Linked DNA regions of Homo sapiens. The protein of the gene in region 1 purifies or fractionates together with the protein of each later gene. This does not show direct contact. Each region holds a gene or a part of one and is shown in the gene's direction. Other genes may lie near its edges.

What was found.
Region 2: the proteins of ASGR2 (region 1) and LMAN2L purify together in Homo sapiens (affinity purification with mass spectrometry; 4 studies listed by BioGRID and IntAct, with this or other methods). This does not show direct contact.
Region 3: the proteins of ASGR2 (region 1) and MFSD8 purify together in Homo sapiens (affinity purification with mass spectrometry; 3 studies listed by BioGRID and IntAct, with this or other methods). This does not show direct contact.

What each region holds. Positions count from the first base shown.
Region 1 is NC_000017.11:7,100,291-7,105,415, reverse strand, and holds the end of ASGR2 (asialoglycoprotein receptor 2), read left to right. Parts: intron 1-3,219; coding exon 3,220-3,326; intron 3,327-3,675; coding exon 3,676-3,841; 3' UTR 3,842-4,090; downstream 4,091-5,125. UniProt on the Homo sapiens protein: Mediates the endocytosis of plasma glycoproteins to which the terminal sialic acid residue on their complex carbohydrate moieties has been removed. The receptor recognizes terminal galactose and N-acetylgalactosamine units.
Region 2 is NC_000002.12:96,708,621-96,716,748, reverse strand, and holds part of LMAN2L (VIP36-like protein isoform 2 precursor), read left to right. Parts: intron 1-3,609; coding exon of another isoform or gene 3,610-3,642; intron 3,643-4,723; coding exon 4,724-4,885; intron 4,886-4,978; coding exon 4,979-5,093; intron 5,094-8,128. UniProt on the Homo sapiens protein: May be involved in the regulation of export from the endoplasmic reticulum of a subset of glycoproteins. May function as a regulator of ERGIC-53.
Region 3 is NC_000004.12:127,919,730-127,927,857, reverse strand, and holds part of MFSD8 (major facilitator superfamily domain-containing protein 8), read left to right. Parts: intron 1-5,894; coding exon 5,895-5,998; intron 5,999-6,086; coding exon 6,087-6,334; coding exon of another isoform or gene 6,335-6,343; exon of another isoform or gene 6,344-7,021; coding exon 7,022-7,228; 3' UTR 7,229-8,128. UniProt on the Homo sapiens protein: Outward-rectifying chloride channel involved in endolysosomal chloride homeostasis, membrane fusion and function. Conducts chloride currents up to hundreds of picoamperes.

The sequences.
Region 1 (5,125 bases):
GTCTGAGCCACTGTAATCCAAAAACTGCACCTGGCAGGTTTTGTTTTTGATGTTTAAAAATCTAATAAGTACCTTTTCTTTTAATAGGTGAGTGTCTCATTTACATTCTAATAGATATGTTTAACCCTAGTCCTTTCTTTTTTCTGCTTTACATGCTTCTTAATTTTCTTACAATTGCTATGTGAGAGGTGTTCTTTTTGTTTTCTTCTTTATGGTATTTTGGAAACTATGTAGTTTATTTAGAGTTATTCCAGTGATTACTTGTATAACTTTAAATAATAGGCTGAAAATTATTGGCTTTGAAAACTAAAAGTTTGTATAACTTCCATAGGAAAGGTGAGGAGACCAGGATACCTCTTATTCCCATGTGTCTGAGTCTTTCCTTTCCTAGGTTCCTTAAGTGTTGTATCTGAAAAAAAAAAAAAATTTTTTTTTTTTTTGAGATGGAGTCTTGCTCTGTCGCCCAGGCTGGAGTGCAATGGCGCGATCTTGGCTCACTGCAACCTCTGCCTCCCAGGTTCAAGCAATTCTCCTGTCTTAGTATCCCGAGTAGCTGAGATTACAGGCACCCGCCATCGTGCCTGGCTAACTTTTATATTTTTTAGTAGAGACAGGGTTTCACCATGTTGGTCAGGCTGGTCTTGAACTCCTGACCTCGTGATCCGCCCGCCTTGGCCTCCTGAAGTGCTGGGATTACAGGTGTGAGCCACCACGCCCGGCCCCTCAAGTGTTTTATCTGAAATTTTTTGTTTATTTTTATTTTTTGAAATGGAGACTTGCTCTTTCGCCCAGGCTGGAGTGCAGTGACACGATCTCGACTCATTGCAAGCTCTGCCTCCCGGTTCAAGCAATTCTCCTGCCTCAGTCTCCCGAGTAGCTAGGATTACAGGTGCCTGCCACCATGCCTGGCTAATATTTATATTTTTAGTAGAGACAAGGTTTCACCATGTTGGCCAGGCTGGTCTTGAACTCCTGACCTCAGGTGATCCTCCCGCCTGGCCTTCCCAAAGTGCTAGGATTACAGGCATGAGCCACTACGCCTGGCTTTTTTTTTTTTTTTTTTTTTTAAGACAGAGTTTTGCTCTTTTTGACCAGGCTGGAGTGCAATGGCACGATCTTGGCTCACTACAACCTCCGCCTCCCAGGTTCAAGCGATTCTCCTGCCTCAGCCTCCCAAGTAGCTGGGATTACAGGCATGCGCCAACACGCCTGGCTAATTTTGTATTTTTAGTGGAGATGAGGTTTCTCCGTGTTGGTCAGGCTGGTCTCCAATTCCCGATCTCAGGTGATTCACCTGCCTTGGCCTCCCATAGTGCTGGGATTACAGGCGTGAGCCACCACACCTGGGCTTTTTTTTTTAGTATGTAGCTCAAACTTTTCATTTCCTTTCCTTATCATGTTCTCTTTTTTTTTTATATCTTCTTTCATGTTTTATGTCATTCTTTTTAAAATTTTTGAAGCATGTAAAGAAACTGTTCTTGGGAGCGGGGAGGGAGAGCATTAGGAGATATACCTAATGTTAAATGACGAGTTAATGGGTGCAGCACACCAACATGGCACATGTATACATATGTAACAAACCTGCACGTTGTGCACATGTACCCTAAAACTTAAAGTATAATAATAATAAAAAAGAAACTGTTCTCCAACATCCCCTCATATTCCGAAACAAGGCTTCTTTTCAAAGTCTATTTTTCACCTCTCTTTTTGATATCACAGTTCATTTTTCATCTGCCTCATCTTCCTCTTTCTTTTTGGGGGCATAAGTTCCATGATGATTTTCTCCATTACTTTTGTGAATGGGCACAGTGCTTTCTTTCCTATGGTTCACCCAGGAAAGGGGGAATGAATTCTCCCGGACTGTCTTCTCTGATCATCTGGCATGATTTGATTCCTCCTCTCAGTCTTTAACACGGCGGGCTGGATACTGCTAATTTGTAGTCTGCTCAGTTGTTCTGTTTCTCGTGGTGATGGGAGGGAGGGCTGGCAGCAGGTAGCAGCACATAGTGTGTGTTGTCTCCAGGCACTTTCTCTCCAACTCCGTTGACTCCTCTGAATTTGGGGAGCAGCCTCACCTGCCTCTGAGGGCTGCCCCTTCATGCATGGGACTTTGTCCTATTTGTGGGATTCCAGAATTTAGGGATGCCCCAGTTTCTGATGCTCAATCGGAAGAGGTGAATAACTGCAACCTTAGTTGTTTTTCTAGAGAGTGAGAGTAGAATTAGGCAATTGTCCTTCAAATACTGTTGGAAGGAAAATTCCAGGCTGTCAAAGGGAATTGTTAAGTGTGCACGTTGCTCAACGGATCCATCCCTCTCCACTTTCTCCACAAAACCAGGTGACCACACCTTCCCCTCCTACCCTACCGAACCACGGGACCTAGGTCCCCAGGAACAGCTGTATGTGTAAGAGAAAGCCACTTGGAGGGGCTACCGTGCTGGGAGTGTGGGTGCGCGTGGGTCCCGGGGAGCTATCTGCAGGCTCGAAGTCCACTTTCACCCAAGCCCCTGGCAACTGGCTGTCCGGGCTGCTTCCTCACACCCCGGTGTCTTCCTATTTTGCCCCGATTGTCAGACTCCACGTAGCTAGATCATAATGGGGCCCTGGGCAGTGGGTCCAAGCTTAGAAGCTCCCGGGCCTGACAGATCTCAGGAAATGACAGCTACACATAGAAGCGAGAGCTACCAGGGGCCAATGTACTTGAGAGGCCAGTGAAACTGAGATCTTCAGTGGGTCTGGGGTCTGGGGGGCAGTAAGAGCAGGGACCAGGGTCGGGATCCCAGGAGTTCGAGGCTGTGGGCAGAAGACAGGGAGAGAACCGGAACTTGGGTAGAGCCATAAGCTGGGAATGAAGGGGGACACCGGCCCAGGGCTGTGAACAGGGGACAGTGGCCACTAACTCAGGTACAGGATTGGCTCTCTGGCTCTGCAACTCCCTGCAAAATGTGGTCACTGCAGTGCCCATCTTAGAGAGCTTCTGAGGATTAAATGAGATCATCTTTGCACAGACAGCACGAAGTCTAGCCTAGCAAATGTGCACTGAACAGTAGCTAGAGTGACGGAAGAAAAAGCTAGGAAGCAGTCTTGTCGGGAGCTGGTGCTTCAGCCTGAGGGCAGATCAGGCTGGGGAAGGCTGAGAGGGGCCACAGTTCCATGCCTGCATGGAGGGAGGAGAAAGGCACAAGAGACTAGAAATTTCCTGTTTGCCTGTGTTTCCAGAAATTCATTGTACAACACACGAACCCCTTCAATACCTGGATAGGTCTCACGGACAGTGATGGCTCTTGGAAATGGGTGGATGGCACAGACTATAGGCACAACTACAAGTAAGTGGCCTCTTCCCTCATCTCCTTGTTAGATTTCTCTGGGGACAGCCCCCTGGCCTTTCACTCCAAGCTACCCTGACTCGTCCCTCAGGGACCAAATTCCCCAATCCTCTCCTCCCCAGACTCCAACCCCTCCAAAGCTGTGCTCTTCTGGGCTGGGGGTGAGGGTTGCTGGGACTGGGCATAGGAAACATCTTTCTCTGCGGTTGGGTTCTCCCCAGACTGGGTAGCAGGGCACACCCCAGCTCCACTCTCGGCCTTCAAGGAAAATGGTCATGAAGAGGAGGAGGATGGGTAAGTCGCTTTCTCACCACCGTGGCAGAGTCCGAGTTTTCTCTTGCCTCCTTAGGAACTGGGCTGTCACTCAGCCAGATAATTGGCACGGGCACGAGCTGGGTGGAAGTGAAGACTGTGTTGAAGTCCAGCCGGATGGCCGCTGGAACGATGACTTCTGCCTGCAGGTGTACCGCTGGGTGTGTGAGAAAAGGCGGAATGCCACCGGCGAGGTGGCCTGACCCCAGCACACCTCTGGCTAACCCATACCCCACACCTGCCCAGCTCTGGCTTCTCTGTTGAGGATTTTGAGGAAAGGAAGAAACACTGAGACAGGGGTATGGGGAAGAGCTGAGCAAAGAGAGAAAGGAGGTAGTTTAAGAGTCCCTGACCCTGGAGGACTGAGATCCCACCTCCTTCTGTAATTCATTGTAATTATTATAATCGTCAGCCTCTTCAATGGCGTAGGAAAGAAGAAACAAATGCTTGAATCTCTGTGTGGCCTGGTTATTGGGAACTGAGAAACAGCATGCAAAGAGGAGGGAGAGGGGAGGGCATGGAAGACGCAAGGCGCGCATCCTAGACAGCTGCTCCTTGGTCCCTAATCCCGAGGGACATTGGTCAGGGAAACGGGAAAGGGGCTTGGAGCAGACAGGCTTAGTGGCTGGCACTGGTGGGAAAGGGGTCGGCCGGGCTGTGGCTGGAGGGTCCGCCTGGCTCCCAGTGAGAGGTGACAGCGTGCTGGCAGTCCTCACAGCCCTCGCTCGCTCTCGGCGCCTCCTCTGCCTGGGCTCCCACTTTGGCGGCACTTGAGGAGCCCTTCATCCCGCCGCTGCACTGTGGGAGCCCCTTTCCGGGCTGGCCAAGGCCGGAGCCGGCTCCCTCAGCTTGCAGGGAGGTGTGGAGGGAGCGGCGCTTGCGGGCCAGCGCGATTTCCGGGTGGGCGTGGACTCGGCGGACCCCGCACTCGGAGTGGCCGGCCTGCCCCACCGGCCGCGGGCAGTGATGGGCTTAGCACCTGAGCCAGCAGCTGCTGTGCTCAATTTCTCGCCACGCCTTAGCTGCCTTCCCGCGGGGCAGGGCTTGGGACCCGCAGCCCGCCATGCCTGAGCCTCCCCGACCCCCGCTCCGTGGGCTCCTGTGCGGCCCGAGCCTCCCCGACCAGCGCCGCCCCCTGCTCCAGGGCGCGCTCAGTGCCATCGACCACCCAAGGGCTGAGGAGTGCGGGCGCAGGGCGCGGGACTGGCAGGCAGCTCCACCTGCGGCCCCAGTGCAGGATCCATGGGGTGAAGCCAGCGGGGCTCCTGAGTCTGGTGGGGACTTGAAGAACCTTTATGTCTAGCTAAGGGATTGTAAATGCACCAATTGGCACTCTGTATCTAGCTCAAGGTTTGTAAACACACCAATCAGCACCCTGTGTCTAGCTCAGGGTTTGTGAATGCACCAATTGACACTCTGTATCTAGCTACTCTGGTCGGGAAGTCGAGAACCTTTGTGCCTAGCTCAGGGATTGTAAACGCACCAAT
Region 2 (8,128 bases), on another chromosome or scaffold:
GATTTCACTACTTAATGCCTGTGTTATCCTGGACAAGTTTTTTACCTGTGAAATGAGGAGTACTGATACTACCTCATAGGATTGTGAGAATTAAATGCAGAAGGGCTCATTACTGAGTTCAGTGCCTGGCACAGACTAAGTGCTCAATAAACACCAGCTATTATTCACACCATTCAGTGGATTCCTAAGGGACATTTTGCAAACATCTTAGTTCTGTTCTCTCTTCCTCTCCCCTCCTTCACTTCTTCACATCTGGGTTCCCAAAAGCAAATGGTCAGCTTACTAGACAATGGTATGGTTTGAGATGGAAACACTGCTCTAAAAGAGTGGCTCCTAGATGCCAGTGTATGAACTCCAGTTGTGTGGTAACAGAGTTTTCACTGGTGCAAGAATCATAATAATGAAGTTCTTTTTCTTAAGTGCTAAATGTATTCAGTTGTTTCATTATGAAATTACATTGTTCTCTCTCATCTTTTGGTGTTAAAGTGTCCCTTTGTAAAATGATGTTTATTATAGATGATTGTTCTGTCATTATTGTATTTTAATATTTTTAGTAGGCAATAAAAAGAAGCCAAATCTAATACTCTCCAAAATATTTTTGGAAATATTAATGGTTGATCACAGCCAGTGGTCTGGGAATTCGTGCTTTAGAAGATGTATGTTTGGCTTTGTGTTTATATATATATGAGTACCTGTGAACGATATTTGTATCTAGAAATACACTAGTCACTGATTGAATGTTTATTGACTCCCTCCTGAACACCAAGACATTGTACTAAATGCTTCGCATATCTCATTTCATCTTCATAATGAACCCTGTGAGCTTTGTATTGTTCTGTTTACAGTGAGGAAATAGAATCTCAAAGAGGTGATGTAATCCACCGAAGGGTTACACAGCTATAAGTGACATAACTGCAGTTAGAACTCAGGTCTCCCTAATTACAGAGGCCATTTGGAATTTTAGCCTAGAATCCATAAATCCACAAGCTAATGGGTGTCTTTTCCATCGAAATATGCTGAAGATACAGTTATCCCGTAGAGGTCTTCAAAAAACACTTTTTTAAAAGTAGTCTTGTAGTACAAAAAGTTGAAAACATTTCTCCACCCTTTAAACAACAGTCCTTTGGATGATAAAACAGGTGAGAGTTTCTCCTTTCTGGTGACTCTTAAATTAGGAATAAAACTACCACCTTGCCTGAACCAGTGTGATTCTTCAATCTTTGGTTCTAACTTACAGAGTGCTTTCTAGGGGAAAAACAAAATTGCTCCTGTGTGAAATTAGTGGTTATCCAAGAAATACTTCCAGGAACTCTTGACTAGGCGTAGAAAATAAGATGGCATTTAGTGACTTACACTAATGTGAGGTTAAAAGTTGAAGGCCAACTCGTGTTGCCGAAGTAGACAGATTCTCTGTAGTTGCAAAGCTGTGAGGCTCCCTGTCTGGTGCAGCGTTTCTTCAATTTGGCTGCACATCACAGCCTTCTGTGGTGCTTTTTAAAAATACATAATCCTGGCTGGGTGCGGTGGCTCACGCCTGTAATCCCAGCACTTTGGGAGGCCAAGACGGGCAGATCACGAGATCAGGAGTTCGAGACCAGCCTGACCAACATGGTGAAACCCCATCTCTACTAAAAATACAAAAATTAGCTGGGCATGGTGGCGAGCGCCTGTAATCCCACCTACTCATAAGGCTGAGGCAGGAGAATTGCTTGAACCCAGGAGGTGGAGGTTGCAGTGAGCCAAGATTTCGCCACTGCACTCCAGCCTGGGTGACAGAGTGAGACTCCATCTCAAAAAAACAAACAAAAAACAATCCTGCACCCCACTCTAGCCATACGAATGAGACTCTTTGACTGAGGGACCCATGTATACGTGCAGTTAACAAGCTCCTTCAGGTGCTCCCAAGGTCCAGCATGCCTCTGGCTGTTACCTGGAACTGGGTCCACACCAGCCTTGGGAAGAGTAAGGCACCCTTAGGCTAAGGATTGCTGTCTCTTTATTATTTGTTTATTTTCTAAGCAAGCTAACATAGGAGATTGCTATCTCTTTAAAGTTGCAACTTAAACTTCTAATCAGGGTTACTAGAGGTGATGAGTGAAGGAAGCCTTGGGCTCATCAGAGCTCCACAGGGCATTTTTAATCCCTTTTTCTTAATTGTCACTGAAATTATGAGCATACTCTCAGATGCCAGTTTCTGTAAACTGCTTGATAACATGCTCACCATTTCCTTGTTCTAAATGGTAGTTGTTGAAGATTAACTTCATGCCAGTTTAATCATCCACGGATTGATGTCATGCCTTTCTGTGTCCTGTATGAATTCTGCCAGTGGTGTTAAGAGGAGGACGGCAGGGGATCTGCACTGCAGCCTCGGACTCCTGGCTGTGGCCCATGGAGCCCAGTGCCGTGGGTGCTGCCTTGCCTCATGGCAGCCTCTTCTCACAAGCTGTGATTCTGACTGATCTGTTTCCAGTTCCTTGAATGTGCCACCCTCATGCTTCTTGTGCCCTCAGATCTTTTGGTGGACTCCCTCTAATTACTTGAGTCTCAGCTCAGATATTGCCTCCTCAGGGAGAGGTTCCCTTGCCCATCCCTTGTATTACCTATTTTATTTTCCTTATAGCATTTTTCACTATCTGAAATAATTTTATTTGCTTCTTTGTTGTTTGTTTCTTCCACTCTGATCTTAATTCCATTCCTGTCTGTCTTGTTTCTCTTTGGACCCTCAGCATCTGGAACAGTACCTGGCTTGTAGTAGGTGTTCACCGTATTAAAGGAGTGAAGGGTTTGAGTTCTGTACCCTCGCCTACCTGTCCCACAGGGCAGAGCTGAGCTGAGCTTGTGTAGGTACCTCTTGTCGCTAATGGCTTAGAACTGCAGCTGTTTGCTGGAGCAGAGCTTAATACCCTCACGCCTGATGATTTTCTAAATCTGTCATTCTGCAATGCCTCCATGGAGCTTCTTCCTTGCCTATGTGTGGTAGGTTAGAATGACAATAGTTATTTGGGAATATATGACCATAAGGCTCAGTTAGAGGGTAAGTGATCCCTTTGGATTAGAGTTAGTTTCATAGTCTCTCAAGTGGCAAGATTTTGGTCTTCTGGGCAGGAGCTGTTTCCTGAGATCCTGGATAGTAAAGGATGTCTTGAATTTGGAAGAATTTAGCCCTGTTGTCTCCTCTTTCCCCTTGCTATAGAAATACAGTAGGCTGGGTACAGACAAACTTGAGACTGACTCCCAGAGACATAAGTGCGGCGTGCCTGGACAGCGTACTGCTATGTGTTTTATAAAGTGCCTTCCAAAAGCTTCAGGACCCTCTATGGGTTAGAGCGGTCTTCCTAGGGGACCCCTTTGAGAATCTGATATAGTAACAGACCCTCTCCTCAGAAAAATGTACAAGCACCCGTGCATATGGTTTTGCCTATCATCTTGAGGGTGCAAAGACTTCACGGATGCCCTTCAGGGACCCTAAAATTCTGTTTGGGGATTTAAGTTGGTTTGTTCATCCATCACAGCTGGGTCATAGCTCTTCTGTGGCTGTGTCTTTCTGACTTGGTCTCCTGTCTTCTGTGCCCTCTCTTGTTTTTATCATAACCTGCTGGACCCTCTCAGGCCCAGAAGAGGCGATATTCTCCAGGAGTCCAGGTACTCAGTTCTTGGCTCATCATGAGCATCCCTCATTCCCATGTGTCCATCCAACATTTGTTGCTGTTTCAAGTCCATGTGGTTGTCTCAGGAGTCCCCGGTCTCTGGTCTCGACTGCATCTCCATCTTGCATGTTAACCATTTGGGACAAAGGGACAAATACTCCCCAAAGGAGTGGCATGCCTCATGTTACCCCTTCACCACCTCACTACCCTGCCTTTTTGCACTGCCTTGGCATTGGGCTTGTTCTGGAATGATTAGTTCGCCATTTCTAAGGAAGAATTGCTCCTACAACTCTACTGGGGAGAGAGGGCCCCTGAAATAGATGGGAAAATGAGTGGCTTATGGGAAAACTTGCAATTTTCTCCCTGTTAAGGGAGAACCTTGCCCTCTTATTATTATTCGGAGAAGTTACGTGTGGAGGAGGCTTAAGTGGGCTGGAAAGTCTTTTGACTAAGGACAGTCATTGTGGCTGGCTGAGCCCATCCAGCAACCCCGTTCCATGTTCTGAGTTCTAATCCATTTAGCCTTATATGCTTATAGAATTTTAGAATTGAAAAGAGCTATCCTGAATGGAAAGATTCCCCTGCTCAAACAGGTATTTTCAGAATACCCGCTGTGTGCAGAACCATGGTTGGGAGGAGATGGGGCTGAAGTTTAGACATATGAAGACGTGATGAATGAATTTTTTCTTCAAGAAGCTTATGTGGCAGTTGGGGAGATAGGTACATATACACGAAAAGGAAACCCCTGGTATTAGGCGGCACATAAGTGCCAAATGGTGACCTTGGGGCATTCAAGTCAGACTCCAGCGTCTTAGGAGGACCACTTCAGGCCCACCCCAGTTCAGGAGCCAAGAGAATTACTGAAGGCAAATACCAAGTGTAGTCGCTTCCTGGGCCCATTTCCCTTGAGAGACCATCTGAATGTGGGCTCTCAGGGGCTGCTGACAATGAGGTCGAGTGGCTGCCTATTCTGCTGTAAGGGGCTCAACTTGTATGTGCTGAATTCCTGTTGCTGTTTGTACAGGCGTTCCTATGTGCTCTTCCTTAGTGTCTGCTTCCCCCTCTCTGCTTTCCAGCGGGTATTCCCCTACATCTCAGCCATGGTGAACAACGGCTCCCTCAGCTATGATCATGAGCGGGATGGGCGGCCTACAGAGCTGGGAGGCTGCACAGCCATTGTCCGCAATCTTCATTACGACACCTTCCTGGTGATTCGCTACGTCAAGAGGCATTTGACGGTGAGAGTCCTTGTCCTGGACCAGATGGTGGTGTGGGCTGTGTCGCTCTTGCTCCCATGGCCTGACCCTGATTTATCTCTCTTTTTATTCTAGATAATGATGGATATTGATGGCAAGCATGAGTGGAGGGACTGCATTGAAGTGCCCGGAGTCCGCCTGCCCCGCGGCTACTACTTCGGCACCTCCTCCATCACTGGGGATCTCTCAGGTACTGCCACGCGCACTCTTGGTTTGCCCTGACTGAGGCCTCTTCTCAATACCCACACTTCATTGAGGCCTCTCACAGGGGAGAGCCAGAGGAGCGGTGCTCTGGAAGGAGGTGCCTCAAGACTGCTTCTCCTTCTGCATTCTTATATCCACATTCCTTAAAAACCCACGCCAGGCTTTCCTAGTACAGTTGTCACTAGAAGATGGTTGGTGCTAATAGAAAGCAGTGTTTGTCCCTTCATTAAGCTGGCTCTTCTAGCCTGTATCGTGAGTTCCTTGCTTTCTGATTTCTGCTGTCAGGCTCCTCTCCTTCCAACCACTAATGTTCCCCGTTCCCCTTCCTTAACAAAGCTTTTCCTTGACTTTGCCGTCCCTCTTCTGACCCCAGACTCTCCTTTTGCTGAGACTTTTGAATGTGTTGTGTGTACAGATCCTTTTGTTTCCTAGCTGTCCACCTCCTTAACATGCTGACTCAGACCTGTGCTCTATCTTGCTAGTACACTAACACCATTCTCATGAAAGGTCATTCTGTTTCCTTGCCATATTCAGTACTCTATTCTCGTTCTCACCCTTTGTCCTCCTCAGCTCATTTAACCCATTACCCTGAAACTCTTGCCTTCTTGACTTATGTGACATTAACAGCACCTGGTTCTTTTACTTTTCCATCTCCTCTTGTTTCTTTTTCTACTTATGCCTGATTCGTAGCTTCTCGTTTATACACTTACTCTCTTTGCTTGAACCCCAATCATAACATCTTTTGGGAAGAGAAAAGGAACTGAACTTCTGTTTCTTTTGATTAATATAATTTGTTCTGGATAAAGCTAGTTTGGAATAGAAGTTTCTTGTGGCAAAATAGAAAGGCAGATACCCATCTGAAAAAGCCGACAGCTAGTGAGCTCCAGCCATTGTAGCTAAAAGGAAATGTCAGCTCAGTGAGGCTAAATCTTCCAGTTTTTCAAGAGCAGTTGGAATTCTGGATTTTTTTTTATATATATATATGGAGTCTCGCTCTGTCGCCAGGCTGGGGTGCAGTGGCGCCATGTCAGCTCACTGCAACCTCCACCTCCTGTATTCAAGCGATTCTCCTGCCTCAGCCTCCCAAGTAGCTGGGACTACAGGCGCGCCACCACGCCCAGCTAATTTTTGTATTTTTAGTAGAAACGGGGTTTCACCATGTTGGCCAGGATGGTCTCCATCTCGACCTTGTGATCCGCCCGCCTTGGCCTCCGAAAGTGCTGGGATTACAGGCATGAGCCACTGAGCCCAGCCTGGATAATCTGGATTTTTAAAATGCAATCTGCTGATCTTTAAAACTCTGGCATCTGATTTTTTTAAAATCAACTTTACTGAGGTGTGCTTTCCATACAACAGAAGAATACAGTTTGAAGAGTTTTGACAAATATTTACACCTATGTAGTCACCATCACAATTAAGATATGAATGTTTCCATCACCTGCCAAAAGCCTTATTATCCCCCTTTGCAGTATTCCTCCCCTTCTTGGATTCCAGGCAACCATTGATCTGCTTTCTGTCATGCAGAGAGATTAGTTTTGGCAATTAGGTTCTAAGTACCGAGCAGGCCAGACCTGTGGGAAAAATTTAGTCTCGGCAGGGGGATAGGAGGCATAGGCTGGAGATCTTTGCTATATAATCTCATTATATGACTACACATTTTCCTTTGAGCTTACAGGTTTCTGGGTTAACCTCCTGACGTACTTTTTAATGGAAAGTCCCCAACTGTCAGAAATGGCAGGGGAGAATAATTTTTTGTTTAGTCTAAGTTTTTTGCCCTAGGTCTTTAGTGAGAATACCCAAGTTAGTAAGTCTGTGTTCTCTGCCCATAGGGTATCCCTAAATGCAAGTTGTTTCTTTCTTTTGAGGTCTTTCTTGTTGCCATCCTCTTACTTGTTGTATAGTAGGTTGTTGAAAACTGCTGAGAAAGTTAGGATGTTTCCCAGCCGTTCCAGGCTTTAATGCCCTGCATTGCATGAGGAGCATTGCCCTGGCCTTTTATCCTGTCCCATGGTTTAAACTGAGCTCTGACAGTTAACATTTTTCCAACAGAAGATGAATCCAGTTTTTCACTACCTGGGAATCTGCTAAAGATTCTAGCAGTCCAAGCAGCTGTGGATGCTCTCCTTATAAATGACCAGAAATCCAGGCCCCAGTCAGTAACCAACCTAGTAGCAATGAGCACCCCTAGCACTCAGATTTGTGGTCTCTAAATACCAATTCCCCCTAAAAGGAACTGCAGCTTCCTTGAGAAATGGCTGATGCAGGGTTTGAGGTAGGAAATCTATAAGTTGGAACTTCCCAGAAAAGCAAGGAAGTTATAAAAAACTTCTGGGTTTATGTAAAGAGACGCAGGAGCCAAACTGAATAGGCTCCTACTTGACAAAGACAGGTGAGTTGAGCATCAATAAGAATCTAACTTCAGGCCAGGCGCGGTGGCTCACGCCTGTAATGCCAGCACTTTGGGAGGCCACGGCAGGTGGATCACCTGAGGTTGGGAGTTCGAGACCAGCCTGACCAACATGGAGAAACCCCATCTCTACTAAAAAAAAAATACAAAAAATTAGCCGGGCGTGGTGGTGCATGCCTGTAATCCCAGCTACTTGGGAGGCTGAGGCAGGGGAATTGCTTGAACCTGGGAGGCAGAGGTTGCAGTGAGCCGAGATCGTGCCATTGCACTCCAGCCTGGGCAACAAGAGCAAAACTCTGTCTCAAAAAAAAAAAAAAAAAAAAAAAGTCTAACTTCAGTGCATTGCAACACATCAGATATGGTTAAATGTAGGAGTTTATAATGATACTTTAAAGAGAGAAATCTAGTCCCTAATTGCTTGATCTTCTCTCTGGTAATTATTAGGGAGATTAAGAGTCACAAGTACAAGAAGCCACAGAGAAACAGGCATAGTCTAGAAGGGCAGTGTATCCCATGCCCATAGCTGTGCCCTGCCCATGGCCCATTAAACAGCGGCCATGAGACCTTTTCCTGTTGTACGTGTGTGTGTGTGCACGTGTGTGGTCTTCACCAGC
Region 3 (8,128 bases), on another chromosome or scaffold:
ACAATTAGCTGGGTATGATGGAGCACGCCTGTAGTCCCAGCTACTTGGGAGGTTGAGGCGAGAGGATTGCTTGAACCCAGGAGTTTGAGGCTGCAGTGAGCTGTGATTGTACCACTACACTCCAGTCTGGGTGACAGAGCAAGACCCATCTCTTAAAAAAAGAATCATTTTGTAAAAGTACAACTGTAAGGAACATATTTTTAGGGAAATGCTTGTGTAAAATTAAGTTCAGTCATATAGTCTATGGTGGAACATTAGTTGATGAATTTAGACAGTTCTATTTAAGTATTCCTCAAATACAGATACTCTTTAACTTGCAATGGGGCTACATCCTGATAAACTGATCATCATAAGTTGAAAATAGCACTAAGTTGAAAATACAGGCTGGGTGCAGTGGCTCACGCCTGCAATCCCAGCACTTTGGGAGGCCAAGGCGGGCAGATCACCTGAGGTCAGAAGTTCGAGACCAGCCCGGCCAACGTGGTGAAACCCCGTCGTAACTAAATACACAAAAATTAGCTGGGTGTGGTGGCCAGTGCCTGTAATCACAGCTGCTCCACAGGTGGAGGCACAAGAATCGCTTGAACCCAGGAGGTGGAGGTTGCAATGAGCCATTGCATTCCAGCCTGGATGACAAGAGTGAAATTCCATCTCAAAAAAAGCGAAAAACAAAAAAAAAAAAACATTTAATACACCTAACCTACGGAGCATTGTAGCTTAGCTTAGCCTACTTTAAACACACTCCAACACTCACATTAGTTTTCAGTTTGGCTAAATCATCTAACACAAAGCGTATTTTATAATAAAGTGTTGGATATCTCATGTAATTTGCCAAATACAGTATACTGTAGATTATAGTACTGGATGTTTACCTTTGTGATCATGTGGCTGATTAGGAGCTGTGGCTCTCTGCTGCTGTCCAGCATCATGAAACAGTATCATACCACAGATCACTAGTCTGGAAAAATATCAAAATTCAAAATTTGAAGTGTGGTTTCTACTGAATGAGTATCACTTTCCTACTGTTGTAAAGCTGAACAGTTCTAAGTTGGACACTCATAAGTCAGAGACTGTATGTACTTTAATAAGGTTCTAAAATTAATCAACAAATGTTAAGTCAGTGTATCAGGTTCAGTGCTATGGGGGTACTATGAGAATTCTTGTCCTTATGGAGCCAAGTAGAGGGATCAAGATATAAGATAGACATATATTTATATTCAAAGTTAATAGGAAGTACATTACATCTTGCTACAGAAGTAGAGCAGTGCTGCTGATACACATTCTTATAGAATGTCCAATACCATCCCCTCAAAGCACGTGTATTCCAGTAGGGGGAAAGCCAATAAACACAAATGTGAAGTCAGATAGTGGTAAGTACTACAAAGAAGAATAGAAGAGAAAAGAATAAGGAGTGACAAGGGCAGGGCTGGGAAGTGGGGAAATGTTGTATTTGATACACTGCTCAAGGAAGGTATATATGAGGAAGTTACATTTAAGCTGAGACCTTAGTGAAGTCAGCAAAGAGCCATGCAATGGCCTGGATGGTCTCGATCTCCTGACCTCAGATGATCCGTCCTCCTCAGCCTCCCAAAGTACTGGGATTACAGGCGTGAGCCACCACACCCAGCCTTTATTATACTTTGAGTTCTGGAATATATGTGCAGGTTTGTTACATAGGTATAAATGTACTATGGTGGTTTGCTGCACCCATCAACCCATCATCTACATTAGGTATTTCTCCTAATGCTATCCCTCCTCTAGCCCCCCACCCCGCAATAGGCCCCTGTGTGTGATGTTCCCCTCCCTGTGTCCATGTATTCTCTTTGTTCAACTCCCACTTATGAGTGAGAACATGTGGCGTTTGTTTTTCTGTTCCTGTGTTTGCTGAGAATGATGGTTTCCAGCTTCATCCATGTTACTGTAAAAGACATGAACTCATCCTTTTTTATGGCTGCATAGTTTTCCATGGTGTATATGTGCTACATTTTCTTTATCCAGTCTGTCATTGATGGGCATTTGGGTTGGTTCCAAGTCTTTACTATTGTGAATAGTGCTGTAATAAACATACATGTGCATGTGTCTTCATAGTAGAATGATTTATAATCCTTTGGGTATATACCCAGTAATGGGATTGCTGGGTCAAATGGTATTTCTGGTTCTAGATCCTTGGGGAATTGCCACACTGTCTTCCACAATGGTTGAACTAATTTACACTCCCACCAACAGTGTAAAGGTGTTCCTATTTCTCCACATCCTCTCCAGCATCTGTTGTTCCCCGACTTTTTAATGATTGCCACTCTAACTGGTGTGAGATGGTATCTCATTGTGATTTTGATATGCATTTCTCTAATGACCAGTGATGATGAGCTTTTTTTCATATGTTTGTTGGTTGCATAAATGTCTTCTTTTGAGAAGCATCTGTTCATATCCTTTGCCCACTTTTTGATGGGGTTGTTTTTTTCTTGTAAATTTGTTTAAGTTCCTTGTAGATTCTGGATATTAGACCTTTATCAGATGGATAGATTGCAAAAATTTTCTCCCATTCTGTAGGTTGCTTGTTCACTCTGATGATAGTTTATTTTGCTGTGCAGAAGCTCTTTAGTTTAATTAGATCCCATTTATCAATTTTGGTTTTTGTTGCCATTGCTTTTGGTGTTTTAGACATGAAGTCCTTGCCCATGCCTATGTCCTGAATGGTAATGCCTAGGTTTTCTTCTAGGGTTTTTATGGTTTTAGGTCCTATGTTTAAGTCTTTGATCTTTCTTGAATTAATTTTTGTATAAGGTATAAAGAAGGGGCCCAGTCTCAGTTTTCTGCGTATGGCTAGCCAGTTTTCCCAACACCATTTATTAAATAGGGAATCCTTTCCCTATTGCTTGTTTTTGTCAGGTTTGTCAAAGATCAGATGGTTGTAGATGTGTGGTGTTATTTCTGAGGCCTCTATTCTGTTCCATTGGTCTATATATCTGTTTTGGTACAAGAATCATGCTGTTTTGGTTACTGTAGCCTTGTAGTGTAGTTTGAAGTCAGGTATTGTGATGTCTTCAGCTTTGTTCTTTTTGCTTAGGATTGTCTTGGCTATATGGGCTCTGTTTTGGTTCCGTATGAAATTTAAAGTAGTTTTTTTCTAATTCTGTGAAGAAAGTCAATGGTAGCTTGATGGGGATAGCATTGAATCCATAAGTTACTTTGGACAGTATGGCCATTTTCACAATATTGATTCTTACTGTCCATGAGCATGGAATGTTTTTCCATTTGTTTGTGTCCTCTCTTATGTCCTTTAGCAGTGGTTTGTAGTTCTCCTTGAAGAGGTCCTTCACATCCCTTGTAAGTTGTATTCCTAGATATTTTATTCTCTTTGCAGCAATTGTGAATGGCAGTTCACTCTTGATTTGGCTCTCTGTTTGTCTGTTATTGGTGTATAGGAATGCTTGTGATTTTTGCACATTGATTTTTTATCCTGAGACTTTGCTGAAGTTGCTTGTCGCTTAAGGAGATTTTGGGCACCACTGGTCCCACAGAAATACAAACTACCGTCAGAGAATACCACAGTATTCTCTAATACTATAAACACCTCTATGCAAATAAAATAGAAAATCTAGAAGACACGGATAAATTCCTGGACACATACACCCTCCCAAGACTAAACCAGGAAGAAGTCGAATCCCTGAATTGACCAATAATAAGTTCTGAGATTGAGGCAGTAATTAATAGCCTACCAACCAAAAAAAGCCCAGGACCAGATAGATTCACAGCCGAATTCTACTGGAGGTACAAAGTTTCCATTCCTTCTGAAACTCCATTCCTTCTGTAACTATGCCAAACCGTAGAAGAAGAGGGACTCCTCCCTAACTCATTTTATGAGGCCAGAATCATCCTGATACCAAAACCTGGCAGAGACACAACAAAAAAAATTTAAGGCCAATATCCCTGATGAACATCGATGCGAAAATCCTCAATAAAATACTGGCAAACCCAGGCCAGGTGCGGTGGCTCACGCCTGTAATCTCAGCACTTTGGGAGGCTGAAGTGGGTGGATCACGAGGTCAGAGGTCGAGACCATCCTGGCCAACACAGTGAAACCCCATCTCTACTAAAAATACAAAAAAAATTAGCCAGGCGTGGTGGCAGGCACCTGTAGTCCCAGCTACTCAGGAGACTGAGGCAGGAGAATGGCATGAACCCGGGAGGCGGAGTTTGCAGTGAGCCAAGTTCACGCCACTGCATACCAGCCTGGGCGACAGAGCAAGACTCTGTCTCAAATAATAATAATAATAATAATAATAATAATAATAATAATAATAAATAAAAATAAAAAATAAAATACTGGAAAACTGAATTCAGCAGCACATCAAAAAGCTTATCCACCACGATCAAATCTGCTTCATCCCTGAGATGCAAGGCTGGTTCAACATACACAAATCAATAAATGTAATCCATCTCATAAACAGAACCAATGACAAAAACCACATGATTATCTCAATATATGCAGAAAAGGCCTTTGATAAAATTCAACACTCCTTCATGCTAACAACACTCAATAAACTGATATTGATGGAACGTATCTCAAAATAATAAGCGCTATTTATGACAAACCCACAGCCAGTATCATACTGAATGGGCAAAAACTGGAAGCATTCCCTTTGAAAACCGGCACAAGACAAGGATACCCTCTCTCACCTCTCCTGTTCAACATAGTGTTGGAAGTTCTGGCCAGGGCAATCAGGCAAGAGAAAGAAATAAAGGGTATTCAATTAGGAAATGAGAAAGTCAAATTGCCTCTGTTTGCAGATGACATGATTGCTGTATTTCTTAAAAACTAGTACTTGCATCTAGAAGCTTGATGAAATTTGGGTTCAATTTTTTGGCAAGAATACTTTATAGGTGGGAATATGTGCTTATATCAGAAGAAATATAATGTTTTGTTTATCTCTTCTTAACATGTAAGTAGCCACTGATTATTCCATAGATCCATTAATTCATTAATGAATCATTACAAAATTCTGGTATTTTAATTCTATCATTCCTTTATTTATTTGCTAGAATACTTACCATGAAGAGAATCTTTCCCTCACCAACTATTTGGTTAACCTGAGCTATAGTTGTATAGGAAAGGCAGGATAAAGGCTTGATTATTTTCTTTTGTTTCCCTAACATCCTCAAAAACTGACCAAAGAGTACTTTATTTTAATATACTATGAATTCATAGATTATAACACTTTTTTTTTTTTTGGCGACAGGGTCTTGCTCTGTCACCCAGTTTGGAGTGCAGTGGTGCCATCACAGCTCATTGCAGCCTTGACCTCCTGGGCTCAAGTAATCCTCCTGCCTCAACCTCCTAAGTAGCTAGAACTACAGGCACCAAATACCACTCCTGGCTAATTTTTAAAATTTTTTGTAGAGATGGGGTCTTGCTATGTTGCCCAGGCTGGTTTTGAACTTCTGGCATCAAGCAGTCCTCCCGCTTTGGCCTCCCAAAGTACTGGGGTTATAGGTGTGAGCCACTACACCAGGCCACAGATGATAATACTTTTTGTGTGTTTCAATCCATTGCCATTATTATTCTGTTTTGGTACTCACATTGTCACATTTTTGGCCAGCTTCTTCAAATTGGCTGAGTCAAAAAGACTCATGACCTAGTAGTCACTGATAACTTCTGTGCTTTTTGCTGTGAAAGATCTGAGCTCATCTACTTTTTGTGTCCCAGACCTTAAGTCAGCCATTTTTCAGAGGAGTCCTGGTTATTTTTAGTGGAAAATTATATTTAGCATTCTTTTTAATGGATATATCACTAAAAGTACAAGATATTATTTTTAGTTTTTAAAATTATGAAAGTAATGAAGCTATGTTATAATGTTTCATTTTAAAATTACAGAGTTTCTGTTCTTTAACAGGATTGGCGAGCGTGCTATTCTACTGGGAGGACTCATCGTTGTATGGGTTGGCTTCTTTATCTTGTTACCTTGGGGAAATCAATTTCCCAAAATACAGTGGGAAGGTATAGCCATACATAATTCTATAATGTTAACCTCTGTTATTTATCTAAAATCAACAAGTAATGCACTGCAATGGTTTTGTTTTTACAGATTTGCACAATAATTCAATCCCTAATACCACATTTGGGGAAATTATTATTGGTCTTTGGAAGTCTCCAATGGAAGATGACAATGAAAGACCAACTGGTTGCTCGATTGAACAAGCCTGGTGCCTCTACACCCCGGTGATTCATCTGGCCCAGTTCCTTACATCAGCTGTGCTAATAGGATTAGGCTATCCAGTCTGCAATCTTATGTCCTATACTCTATATTCAAAAATTCTAGGACCAAAACCTCAGGTAAGCCAGGTACCCTGACATTGCAATTATAGAAAATATACTTGTAAGCACTCAACATTTTTTGCTGCCATTCTCTATTTTTACACAGACTGATTTGAGGGATTTTTATCATATTCAGCATTTAAAATTTTTAAAAATCCCACAACTTCTATAAAGTTCATTCTTGGGTAGGTTATGTGGGTTATAGTTTTGGATACAGAAGTTGTAGGAGTGGCATTGTGGTAGAGTGTAAAGTGGCACAGTGGAGTCAGCCAAATATGGCTTCAAACCTCTTGAACAAGTTACTTAAACTTTCTGAGTTTCAGCTTCTACCTTTGTTAAACAGGCATAACACCTGTCATCGAAACTTGTGAACATTACAAATGATGTATTTAAAGCACCTACCTCAGTGACTGGCATGTAGCAGGTACAAAATAAATGTTAGCTTTAAAAGGTATTTTAATCAATTTTATTATTCCCAGGGCTTCAGCAGACAGTAAGTTTTTCCCTTTACACTCCTTTTATTTTTTTTAATCTGACTTAATATTAAATGCTATATTTATAGGAGGCATTTTATGTTTAATTTAAAAGTAAAAGATGCAGAAATGATTCTTGTAAGTTTGCTGTAGTTTGGTAATACCATTTCTTTGCTTTTAAATAACTAAACCCCAATATCAATCTGCTTGTCCTCCATTTCACCCCCAACAGGGTGTATACATGGGCTGGTTAACAGCATCTGGAAGTGGAGCCCGGATTCTTGGGCCTATGTTCATCAGCCAAGTGTATGCTCACTGGGGACCACGATGGGCATTCAGCCTGGTGTGTGGAATAATAGTGCTCACCATCACCCTCCTGGGAGTGGTTTACAAAAGACTCATTGCTCTTTCTGTAAGATATGGGAGGATTCAGGAATAAACTAGCTAAGACTGTGATGGAAACTACTTGCTGTGTGGCACTTCCTGGTCTAAAGCTCTGCTAGACAATTGCGGTGAGCCAGTCTCCAAGAATCAGACTACAGATATTGCAGATTTTGAAGAACAAGAACATATGTTGAATAACAGAGAGAATTCTACATGTCATTGTGAATAGTAGGTTATATAAAAACATACTAGATGATAATTTCCTTACCTCAGAAATGAAATATTATTCTTATAATACCTTTTTGTGGTTGCATGAACTAATGAGTGAATGGACAATGATGAATAAATGTGAAGCTGTATTCTTAATACCCACTGCAGAAGTGTCATTAAAATAATATACAGTGGAACCAGAAAGAGGGTTCTGTAAGAATTAGCCATAGCAGAACAAAATTATAGAATTTTAAATACCTCTACCCAAGTAGAGGTATTTTTATTCAGACACCTACTTTTTATTTATAAAAAAATGCATTTTCTATTATCAAGTTCACTTATGAAATAAAAATTATAACACATATTTTCCATTTAGCGTGCCTAACATCCTACCTTGCCTTCTATGAGTCTTTCTTCTAATACTACACCTCTGCCTTATTTTAGTTCAGGGTTTCACTAAGTAACCCCTACATTAATAAATGAGTATGGATAATGCTAATATTTGAGCAATACAGAGGATTAAGAGATCAAGATACTTCACTGCCTATTAGCCTAATAGGGATACCTACTTTCTTTCAAATGCCAAAAATTCACATTAGAAACATAATCCAGATATGTGTTATTTTATATATATATATACAAAACAGTAAATGGTTTCTTAAAATTATTGCTATTTTTCAACCCCCTTAAACTGGAGAAAAACATTTAATTAGTAAAACATTAATTAATTTACTTTAATTTTTCC